Linked DNA regions of Homo sapiens: region 1 is linked to region 2. A link means that fine-mapping ties the variant in region 2 to the expression of a gene that starts in the linked region. Tissue or cell type: blood mononuclear cells. Region 2 holds a variant in brackets; the other region holds the start of a gene. All regions are shown on one strand. Distances are between the middles of the regions.

Region 1 (5,150 bases), 85 kb before region 2:
AGATTATGTTCCTACTCAATTCCAACCCTCCTCCCTTGCTGACCATTTTCTATCACCAGTCCTTTACTTCTTACTTTTTCCTCCACCTCCGTATGTCTATAACCTCAGATGGAAAAACACTTTCCATTTATCCTATTGTCCCACATCTCTATTTTTCTCCACCTTCTACTACTGAACATGTCCACTTCCCTACAATCTATTCACTATAATCCCCTATAAAAAGATTTATAAGTCTATCACTCTACAAAAATAAAAAAAATAAAACTACTGACAAAGGACATCTGATTTGCGGACAGCTTGTTCCAGTTGCTGCTTACTCAGTTCTCCAGTCTCTTGATCTCTTCCGCAGTTTTATGGCAGAACTGACCAACCCCTCCTTATTGCAGTTATTCCTCTCGCTTTTGTAATGAAGCAGAGCGGTTTACAGGAAGGACTCTGGACCGAGAATCAGGAGATCTATGTTCTAGACCCAATTAAACGACTAATTACCTGTGAGCCTCCCCACCTCCACTCCTACCCACTCCTCAGATCTCAGTTCTTGTGAGACACTCTTAACACCCAGACTAGGTTATGTCACTCCAGTACCCACTTTGTGAAAACCTATTCTCCTTTGTAGTGCTTATCACAATTACTTAATTATATAATCAGTAGATGGATGGCTATCTTTCCTACCCACACACCAGACTGTAAACTCCATGAAGGCAGAGAGCATATGCCTTGCACCTCATCTGTGCAAAATAAAAACCTGTCAATTGAGTTAATGTTGAAACAGATGTTAAGACCACTTCCTGAGACTGCTTGCATTATTTTTATTATCCTAAGTAATAAAATTACTAGCATTTTAGTTACTTACAAAATTATCGGCAAAACTTTAAACAAAAACTTGAAATTTGGTGAACTACATATGAATTTCCATATAAAATAGATCATGAGTAACAGGAACTTGTTTTCCAAAATAGTTATATTTCTCTTGCTCATCTAAGAGACAGTTGGATCAGTAACCTGCATTTCAGCACCAAAATGTGTTCTAAACCATATACGGACTGAATGTATAAGGGTACATCATGACATAAGTGATGTTTAATTTGACATTAAAACACTATTGTTTACGTAGCTGTTTAGAGAATACCGAGTGGTACTTTACGTTTAAAGCTGTTCTTTAACATTGGCAAAAGCCATGAGCTACATACACACTCTGCAAGGAAATGAAAAGTTTATCAGTCAAGTTACCTTGCAGTGTGATTTTAAATATTATTTCATATAAATCAGGGAAAAACAAGTACTGGTTCAGCGGTAAGACTGCTTTCAAATGTAAAAATATCATATCTCACACGAGTGAAAGTTTTGTCAAGTTTTATGGTACACCACCTTGGTCAAATAATTTTAACAGATTACATGCTAATTTGCCTTTCAACTGCTGAGTGTATCCTGCTCAACAATACCGTAAGGTCCTTCCCGGAAGGCTTGGCATTTTTGTTCGTTGGTCCCCTTAATAGGAATGCAGGTGGTTTCAGTAATCTATAATATTCCAAAAAAGAACTGAAAATGGCTTTTGAGGTTCAATGTTTATACAATGCCATCTGAAAACATTGTACAAGTACCTAAAATCTGATGCTTAGACAATTCCCTTGGTTAAGAGTGGTTAATAGGCTGTAAATATAGTTGTAATCCCCAGGAAAGAAGAGGCATTTCATAACGGAAACACTAACAGATACGATCACTCCGAGCCGCTCTCCAAGGCGTCCTCATCGTTAAATCAACACCAGGGGTTGTGAGCGGGCAATTGTGCCCCTCTGACACCCCCGCTCTTCCGCAGACTCGGGCTCCAATCCCCGCGCGAGGAGTCCCTCGAGACTAGCCAGCTCTTCCTCGAGACTTCGGAAGCTGGGAAATCCCTGGCCAGGGAACCAGGAGCTCAAGCCCCCTCCCCTTTCCTTTCCTGAAAATTAATGAATTGGCCGTCTGATTGTTTATTTAATGAGGTGTGTAGTGGCCTCTACTGGTGCTAGTGTGAGCACAAGAATGTCCCACTCTTACAAGTGGGATGAGCCTGGGGGAGGGGAGAGAGGCGAGGGGTGAACCTGCCTCCAGGTACAAAGCTGGGAACTAGACCCCTGCGCCCCCGACCTGCCCCCCGGCAGCCGCCCCTTCCCCGGTGGCGCCCCCTCTCGCCCTTCTCCTCCCCACCACGCGCGATCCCCTTTCTCTTCGGCAACCGGAGCCGAGGCAGAGAAGTTCCTGCACGTTTCCTCCTGGATCCTAAACAAAAACACCGCAGCCGCGGCCGCCTGAGCCGGTGCCGCGCCCCCGCGAACCCCCGGGCCCGCGCCCGCCGCTTACCTGGGGACTGCGGCGCGGAGCCGCTCCTGGCGGCCGCGGCGCCCGGCGCCCGGCGCCCGAGCAGCAGCAGGCAGTAGAGCCAGAAGGAGGGGGTGCTGAGGAGTCGCCGGGCTCCCCGCTCCGCCGCCATCTCTTCCCCGAGAGTGAGCGGCAGCGGCGGCGACAGCGCCGCGGAGCCCTTGCCTCCTTCCCTCCCGCGCGCCTCAGCCGGTCCCTCGCTGCAAGCTCGGCTCCCGCGGCCGCCGCTGCTCCAGCCCAGCCCGGCCCGGCCCGGCCCGCGCAGCCCCTCTCGCTGGAGGGGAGACTCCAGGGCGCCTCCCTCCTGCAAGGGGGCGGGGAGGGGAGGAGAGCGAAGAAGGGGAGTCAGTACATTCCGGGGCGGGGGGGGGGGGGCGGTGGGTCGGTCTCCAGGTTCCAGGCGCCGCCACCCGCCGCCGACTCCGGCTCCACACACCAGCGCGAGGGGGGCGGAGACCGCGGACGGCGGGGGCGGGGGCGGGGGCGGGGGGCGGGAGTCCCGGGCGCGCACACGCGCACGCGCGCGCCTCGCCCGCACCCCCTCGGCTCCGCGCGCGGCCCGCCCCCGCTCCAATCCCGGCTGCCGCCTCTCGGGCCGTGGCGGGCCCGCTCCCCTCCCCCTTCTCCCCGGAGCCGCTGACGGGTGCGGGGCGCGCGCGCCGGGCGCTGCTGCTGGCGTCAGGGAAACCCCGGAGAAGCGGATCCTCCTGCTCCTCCCGCCCGCTCGCCGCAGCCCCTCGGCTCCGCGCGCCCCCGCCTCCTCCTCCTCGCCTCGGGGACAAATTCCCCCCTCACCTCCCCAGATGCCTCTGGCTGCAGAGACCTGAGGGCGAGAGGCGCTCCGAGCTCAGGCTGGTCCGGGAGGCCGGCGTGGGCGCGCACCTCTGCACAGTCCGGGCCTGGAGCCTCTATATAGGGCCTCAGAGGAAACCGAAAGGCCTCCGGGAGGAAACCTGGGTGCGCAGTGGGTCGGCCCGGGGATTTATGTGCTCGCCAAAAACAATAGCGATCCCGCCCGACTCTTGCTGGGCCCTGGCGCGGCTCCCGTGGGAGGGGGCCGGCCGCGCAGCCGCTGACCTCCGGCTCCCAAGCCGGGCCGCCGTCGCCGCGCGCTTCCCCCGGGCAGCGCCGGGACCCGCCCGAACCGCGCCCCCACCCGCATCGCTCGGCCCGGGTCCAGGGAACTAGGCACAGACAAAGGTGCCCGCTGTCCACTTCCTCAGCTCGTGCGGGGGCCCCGACCGAGCCCTGGGACTCCCCGGGGCCAGTCTTCTCGCAGTAACTGCTACGTTTTACCTGTACCTTTGCGGGACACTTGGCGTTTTCCTACCTGGGAATCACGTCTTTCGCTGATAAACCAAGGAGCAAGTGGGATATGATTTTAAACCACTTAGTAATCGTGAGGCAGCACCCAGGCTACACAAAGTTAGGAGAAAGCAGTTTGTAGTTCCACTGCTGATGAGACTATTGATCATTTTATATACTGCACCCATGAAAAATTTTTAAAGAAAATTTATTTGTATGATTATGCAAGCAGAGTCACGTTTGGTGGTTGATAGGCGTTGGGTTTTATTCACTCTTCTGTGTAGTCGATAACCGAAATGTCTTGCTTCCCACAAGAAAATGGCTATTTCACTAACATATCCCTCTGTGCTTTCTCATAGTTACTTTCCAAAGATATTTTATTCTAAAGCGCCAAAATGAACAATGTAAGACATGGATTAACGTCGGGAGGGAAGAGCTCAGAATCTTCATAAAACCTTAAATCATCAAAACGGTGAAATTAGGAATTCTCATGCTAGTTCTTTGAAACAATTGACTTAATAGAGGAAACACATGCTTATGGTTTTTCACTAGGGAAACCATTTAAATACCTTTTTGTTTTGGTTAGAGTTGTTAACCAGCAAAAATATTTCCTAAATACCCGTGATTGACCTGTTAAATTAGAAATAGATTACCTCCCAATTACTTCACAAGTATTTGCTTAATTAACCTTTAATAATCACATCATTATTCAGTTTTCTGAGATAATTAATGAGAAAAGCTCTTTGAAAACTGTAAATTGCCTTGCAAATGTTAATTTCCTGATATCTTTTCTAAGTCTGGAAAAATTTCATTATATTAAACCTATAACGTGTAATATGACTTCTGAGATGAAGCTTACATTTATCTCCAAGTTTTGAAAAATACATGAGTTGTGGCTAATAACAGACTGATTTTCATATATGACTTATATGAACTGTCTCACTAATTTATCAGCCCACTGTGTATATCAGGTTAATATCAAAAAGTTTAAAACAGTTGTATATTTCTGGCTTCTGATTAAATCACAATTTTAATAAAACCCACTCTATTAAACCACTAGTAGATGGAGCCCCAGATTAAAGCTACAGATCCTAAATCAGTTCAAGATAGTTAAGTAACTCAGGCACACACTTGAATTCAGCTCCTTTACTTTGTTTCAAAGTCACTGACACTGTCGACATGCCCTTTAAAAATCATCATTGAGTAATTAACCTGTTCTTTGTTTAGTAAAGCATATCTGAGAAAAGATTTTCTTAGGCATCTCTTTTATCATTCTTATTCTCCCAACAAGATTTTCAACAAATACTTCAGCCTGCACGTATACTGCTAATCAACACTTTTATGTTGTCTAAACTATCAATCTATGAAGAGATATTAAACCACTGGTGAAATTAACAGTTTTTTCATCTAAGTAAAGTTAGAACATGAGGCCCATGTTCAAGGAATAAGTGCACAAAGAAACTTTAGAGCAAAGAAAACAGAGTGGC
Region 2 (5,150 bases):
TACCAATAACTTATTTTAAAAATGGGTTATGCAGGGGAAAGAGTTACGAGTACATAACCTGTCTTTTCCCTAGGAGCTATATATTTCAGGGTAACTAAATAGCCCAGTTGATGAAGGAAAGCTCTTTTACAGAAGAGTGCACGCTAATAAGTGAAGAAGGAATGATGGGATTGGAAAATCACCATTCTGCAACCCCTATGGGATGATTGATTCAGGCAAAGACCATCAGTGGTTGTAAGATCAGCTGGTGAGAGGTTAATGGTGAGCTACATATTTACAGGGCATCAACTACCGCCCCAGTTTATCTGCTAGTTCCAAGAGGAGAAAACCCTTAACTTTGCAATAAAGGGATCAGGCAAGCCATCACCATTTTAATCCAGTGATCAAGCCCAGTGTCACTGATAATAGGCCAACTTGACATGACATCCCTCCTTGTGTGATACAGTGCTAAAGTACATAGCATCATCTATGAGGTTTTCTGGATAACAAGGTTTTACCTGAATCACATCAAGACTGTAGAATTAATTTCCATCTCATGGGAAATACAGGGGAGACAGGAATTTGTTAGGCATCACCTCAGTGGTAAATCAATCAGGCAAATCAAAAAAGTGGGACATTCTACAGTACGGTCAGTTTTCTGTATCTGTGGATTCCACCAACTCTGCATCAGAAATACTAAAAATAAAAACAATAATGCAAATTAAAAAGCAATACAATAACTATTTATACAGCATTTACATTGTATTAAGTACTATAAGTAACCTGGAAATGATTTGAAGTACATATATGGGAGGATATGTGTAGGGTACATGCAAATACTACACTATTTGATATAAGGGACTTGAGCATCCTCAGATTTTGGTATCCTCAGGCATCCTGGAACTGATCACCCATGGATACTGAGGGACAGCTGTATCTTCAATAAGTCAATGTCATAGAAAGCAAAAAGGAGTGGAGGTGCTATTTTTAGATCAAAAGAGACTTAAAAGACCTAATCACCGAATGTAGTTTTGATCCTTTATTCAGTCAAGGAATAAAGCTGGCATAAGGAAATGAGCTGTAATAGGATATTTTGGGGAATTATTGAAGAACTTTGAGTACCGTGTAGGTGTTATATATTTACAAATTATTAATTTTGGATATGATATCATTATAAAGAAAATGTCCTTATTTTTTAGAGACACAGTGAAATATTTAAGGATGAAGGGTCATGATGTCTATAATTATAAACCACTTGACCAAAAAATGACAGAGATAGATGCAGAAAAACACTTTGTCACTGACCAGAGGAAAAAAATGAGAACAAGCAGATTGTCCCCTACAAATATTTGTTAAATCCCTGCCACATGCCAGGTTTACTACTGTTGGGTATACAGTAGTAAATGAGATGAACACGTGGGTCCCACCCTCCTGAAACTTAGAGGAAAAGGTTAGAACACATTTCTAATAATAACCATAACTAGCATGTATTATGCGCCAGTGTAAGAGTGCTTAAATGCATGATCTTATTTAACCCTCCCAATGGCTTCATGGAATGAGTACTCTTATGCTTCGGTGATTAAAGCTCCAGGGAGAATGTTTCTGGTCCCAAGTCACAGAGCTGGTGAGTGGCCCAACCAGGTCTTAAATCTTAGATTTGTGTGGTGGTCCTGGCTGGGCTCTTCCCTGGGTGTGTTGACAGGGGGACCGTGTGACTCCATACTGTTTCAGCATGGATTAACACGGCTTCGTTATCATTTCTCCTCTTTTCCCTTGTAATCATTGTAAAATGACGCCCAACTTGGCTGCCAGCCAAAAGGAAGTGCTGTTTATATAAAGGACATGAAAAGTAAAATAATAACGTAGTGTCACTCATCTTTAAACTCCTTGAAACTGCCTAGATTCTGCCTTAGTCTTTCCTACAGTCTACATTCTTATCTTCCTCTAGTTAAATCTGCTTTCTTCTCCATAAACAGATTTAGATAAATATAGTTAAGACTAATTATTCAATTATTTAATCCTGTGGATAGTCGTCTTTTAGCTGCTGGTATTAAACAAAATTGTTTCCTATATTGAAAAATATGCAGCTTGCAGCTACATTTTGTTCAAATGCTTCTAAGGGCTAGAACTGGACCTTGGCCTCCACTTGGCCATCACTGGTCATCAAATATTTATTGAGCATCTACTATGTGCCATGTCTGTTCTACATTTAGAACATGGTTTCTCTGGTACTTCAGGTTCCTCATGATGCTTTACAAACAAGATTTTAGGATCTGGCTTATTTGCAAACTCGGAAAGGCCTGAATACTGACCATATATTCCCTTAGGGCTGGCATTTGGTATCCACAGGGAAGTCAGGTTTTATGAGCCTGTCACCACTTCTGATGCACGGCCCAGGGCAGATAGCTTTATGGCATTGTGGTAATTAGTTCCTACAATAGAGGCCTGTCTTATCAGAGGAGCAGTGGTGGGCCCCAGGCAGCTCTGTTTGCCTGCAGAAAGCTCAGCTGTTCCCTGGGTACCTACAGCAGTGTTACAATGAGAGGAGTATGAAACGAGACCCTGGGCAGACTCTCAGCCAAGGGTGTTGGCAGTTCAGTTGGAGACAGCTGTGTAATGTCCCTGTTGCACTGGCCTGGGCTTCTATCTAAAGCCATCTTATTTGTAGTGTTTATTTTCTTCCACTTTTGCCCTTAGGCGCCCTATTGATGTTAGTGGATTTCCATATCAGAGAGGGACTTGAGGAGCTCAAAGAGGTTAATCAACTTGTTCCTTGTTGTGGGGTAGAGAAGTGTGGGGTAGAACCAGAAAGGCACAGCTTAGCACTCCTGCCGCCCATTAGAATCTGTCTTAGTTGCAGCCAGAGAACTTACAAGTTCCCATGTGTCATTAAAGGAAATACACTGTGGGACCTGTGCAGGCTTTGGCATGTGTGAAATTTCAC[G/A]CCTCACAGATAGCGCTTCTGTCTGTGTCCAGGCTGCTTTCTTGCATGTTAGGTTTTTTTGAAAGTGTGAGTTATTCTATACCAAGAACTTCATCATAAATTACTTAATTTTTTTTCCAGGAAAACATTCCCTCCATTTTGTTAATTACCTAGCTAGTCACAGAAGCAATTCCTGGGGTTTTTTCAAAAAATACATTTTTCTCCTTGGTTACAAAAGTATTACATGTTTATTGTTAAAAAAAAAAAAGTCAGAAAAGCATAGGGAAAAAAATTTAAACGTCCTATAATTCTATCACTCTGACATAACTACTGTTAACATTTTGTGGAATGTGCTTTTAGTCTTTTCTCGATACATATATAATTTTTAAACAAAATTGGGATCATACTACTTCCTATAATTTGTGCAGTTTGTATTCTGTTTTATTTACAGAGAACATCAATTTGTAAGCATGCTCTTGTACTAGAAAAGAGTTTTCAAAAATGTTATTTTTTAAATAGCTGCATAATGTTTCAGCAAGTGAATTAATCATAATCTATTTAACCAAGCTCTATTTGAATATTTAGTTGTTTCCAGCATTTTGCTATCATAACATATACTTTGTTGAGCATCCTCGATATGAATTTTTGCCCTACCCAGGATTATTTTCTTAGAATAAATTTCTAGTGCTGGAATTCCTGAATGAAAGGGAGCGAACTCTTAACAGCTCTTTATCTTCCAGAAGGCTTGGCCAAGTCTCCCGTCTGTCAGAAATGTCTGAACGTTCATTTGGTGGCATTGGGCCATTTTACGAATATTTTTAAAAGCTCTCCCAATTTGATAGGCAAAAAATGGTATCTTAGTCTTATTTTAAGATTATTTAATCATTGATAAATTTGATTATGGTATGCCTTATTATACCATAAGTTTTGGATGGGAAAACAATCCTTGCAAATTTGGTTCTGTTTTATGGTTAGGATTTCTTCTAAGGTTTGACTATTCAGAAGTTCCCTGTTATGAAAATAAGAAACTTGTTCAGTAGCTATTGCTTACAAAGCATTAATTGTGGAGGGGTTTTTGTTGTTGCTAATTATCATAGATATGGTTAATTTTATTCAGCGACAGTTTTCATAGGTAAGGAAAATGTCCACAATATTTTTGCCAAGACTATTATGGTTTGGTTTTGAAAAAACTCCCCTCGAAGTCTCCATGGCCTATTTCGTTTCCTGTGTCTCAAATACAGCTTTCACTAACCTTCCACATACAGTCTTCTCCTATTTTTGGAATTAAATTTAAATCAACAATCTAGATCTACCTGCTACTTTGCACTCCACCAAAACAGAGCGAGACCCGGGTCTTGACTTATAGAAGCTTACAATTGAGTCAGATGGCTACATGTATAACCAGATGACGATGCCTGTAGTGCTAAACATTGTCATAGGATGTAAAATGCTGGAAGGCTACTGAAGAGTGGCAGTTATACCAAGCATGAGGATTTGGGATGGTTTCTTGTATTGAGTTTTGGAAGAGAAGACAGATTTTCCCAGAATGAATAAAAAAAATTTCCAGTCCCACATGACCTTATAGAAACTTTCCACTTACCCATCTAAAGGTAGAGCCTATATCCCCACCCCTTGACCCTGAGTGAGCTTTTATGACTGCCTCTCTGAAGAGTAGAATGTGGCAGAAGTAATGCTGCCTGACTTCTGAGGCTAGGTCATAAAAGGAGATACAGCTTCCTCCTTGCGGTAGCTCACTTGTGACATGTGTTTGGAGCCTCCATGTGAGAAGTCTGGCTACCCTGACTTCCTGAGCCACCATGCTGGAGAAACAGAAGAGAGGAAGAGAGATCGAGATTATTTCAGCCGTAAGAACTTGACTGGTGATAGTTACTTGAGACATTCTGAGCAAGAAGCACCCTACTAAGGCCAGTCAACCCTCAAAACCATGAAAGTTTACTATAAAATAATTGTTGTTTAAAGCCACTAAGTTTTAGGGTTGTCATCCAACAATGCATACCTGCAGCAGCAGGTATGAGAAGAAAGGGCATTCCAGGCAGAGGGGACAGCCTGATAATTTTTCCTTTGCAGCTTTCATTCTGTTTTATGTTTAAGTGTTCTCTCTATGTAGATGATGTCTGTAGCTATAACTGTGATCTTCCTCTCTCTCAAATTGATGCCCAGTATTCCTCTTTGCTTCCTAGAATGCTATGTCTGGAGATCCTACTCAAACTCAGTAGATCACAAAATG

What was found. PIP is the estimated chance that this variant, and not a neighbour inherited with it, causes the effect.
Region 1: it holds the start of NEO1, and the variant in region 2 is fine-mapped to the expression of NEO1 in blood mononuclear cells (TOPMed, PIP 0.98).

The regions. Positions count from the first base shown.
Region 1 is chr15:73,049,996-73,055,145 of GRCh38, reverse strand. It overlaps NEO1 (neogenin 1), which reads right to left and starts at 2,683. Exons shown (of 29, transcript NM_002499.4): 1 at 2,341-2,683. The coding sequence starts at 2,470. RefSeq lists silencers at 2,364-2,743, 2,974-3,293, 3,384-3,453, 3,514-3,563.
Region 2 is chr15:72,965,340-72,970,489 of GRCh38, reverse strand. No RefSeq gene overlaps it. Among named protein-coding and RNA genes, the nearest start is that of NEO1, 85 kb to the left of the region's middle. The variant G/A (reference allele first, on the strand shown) is at 2,924.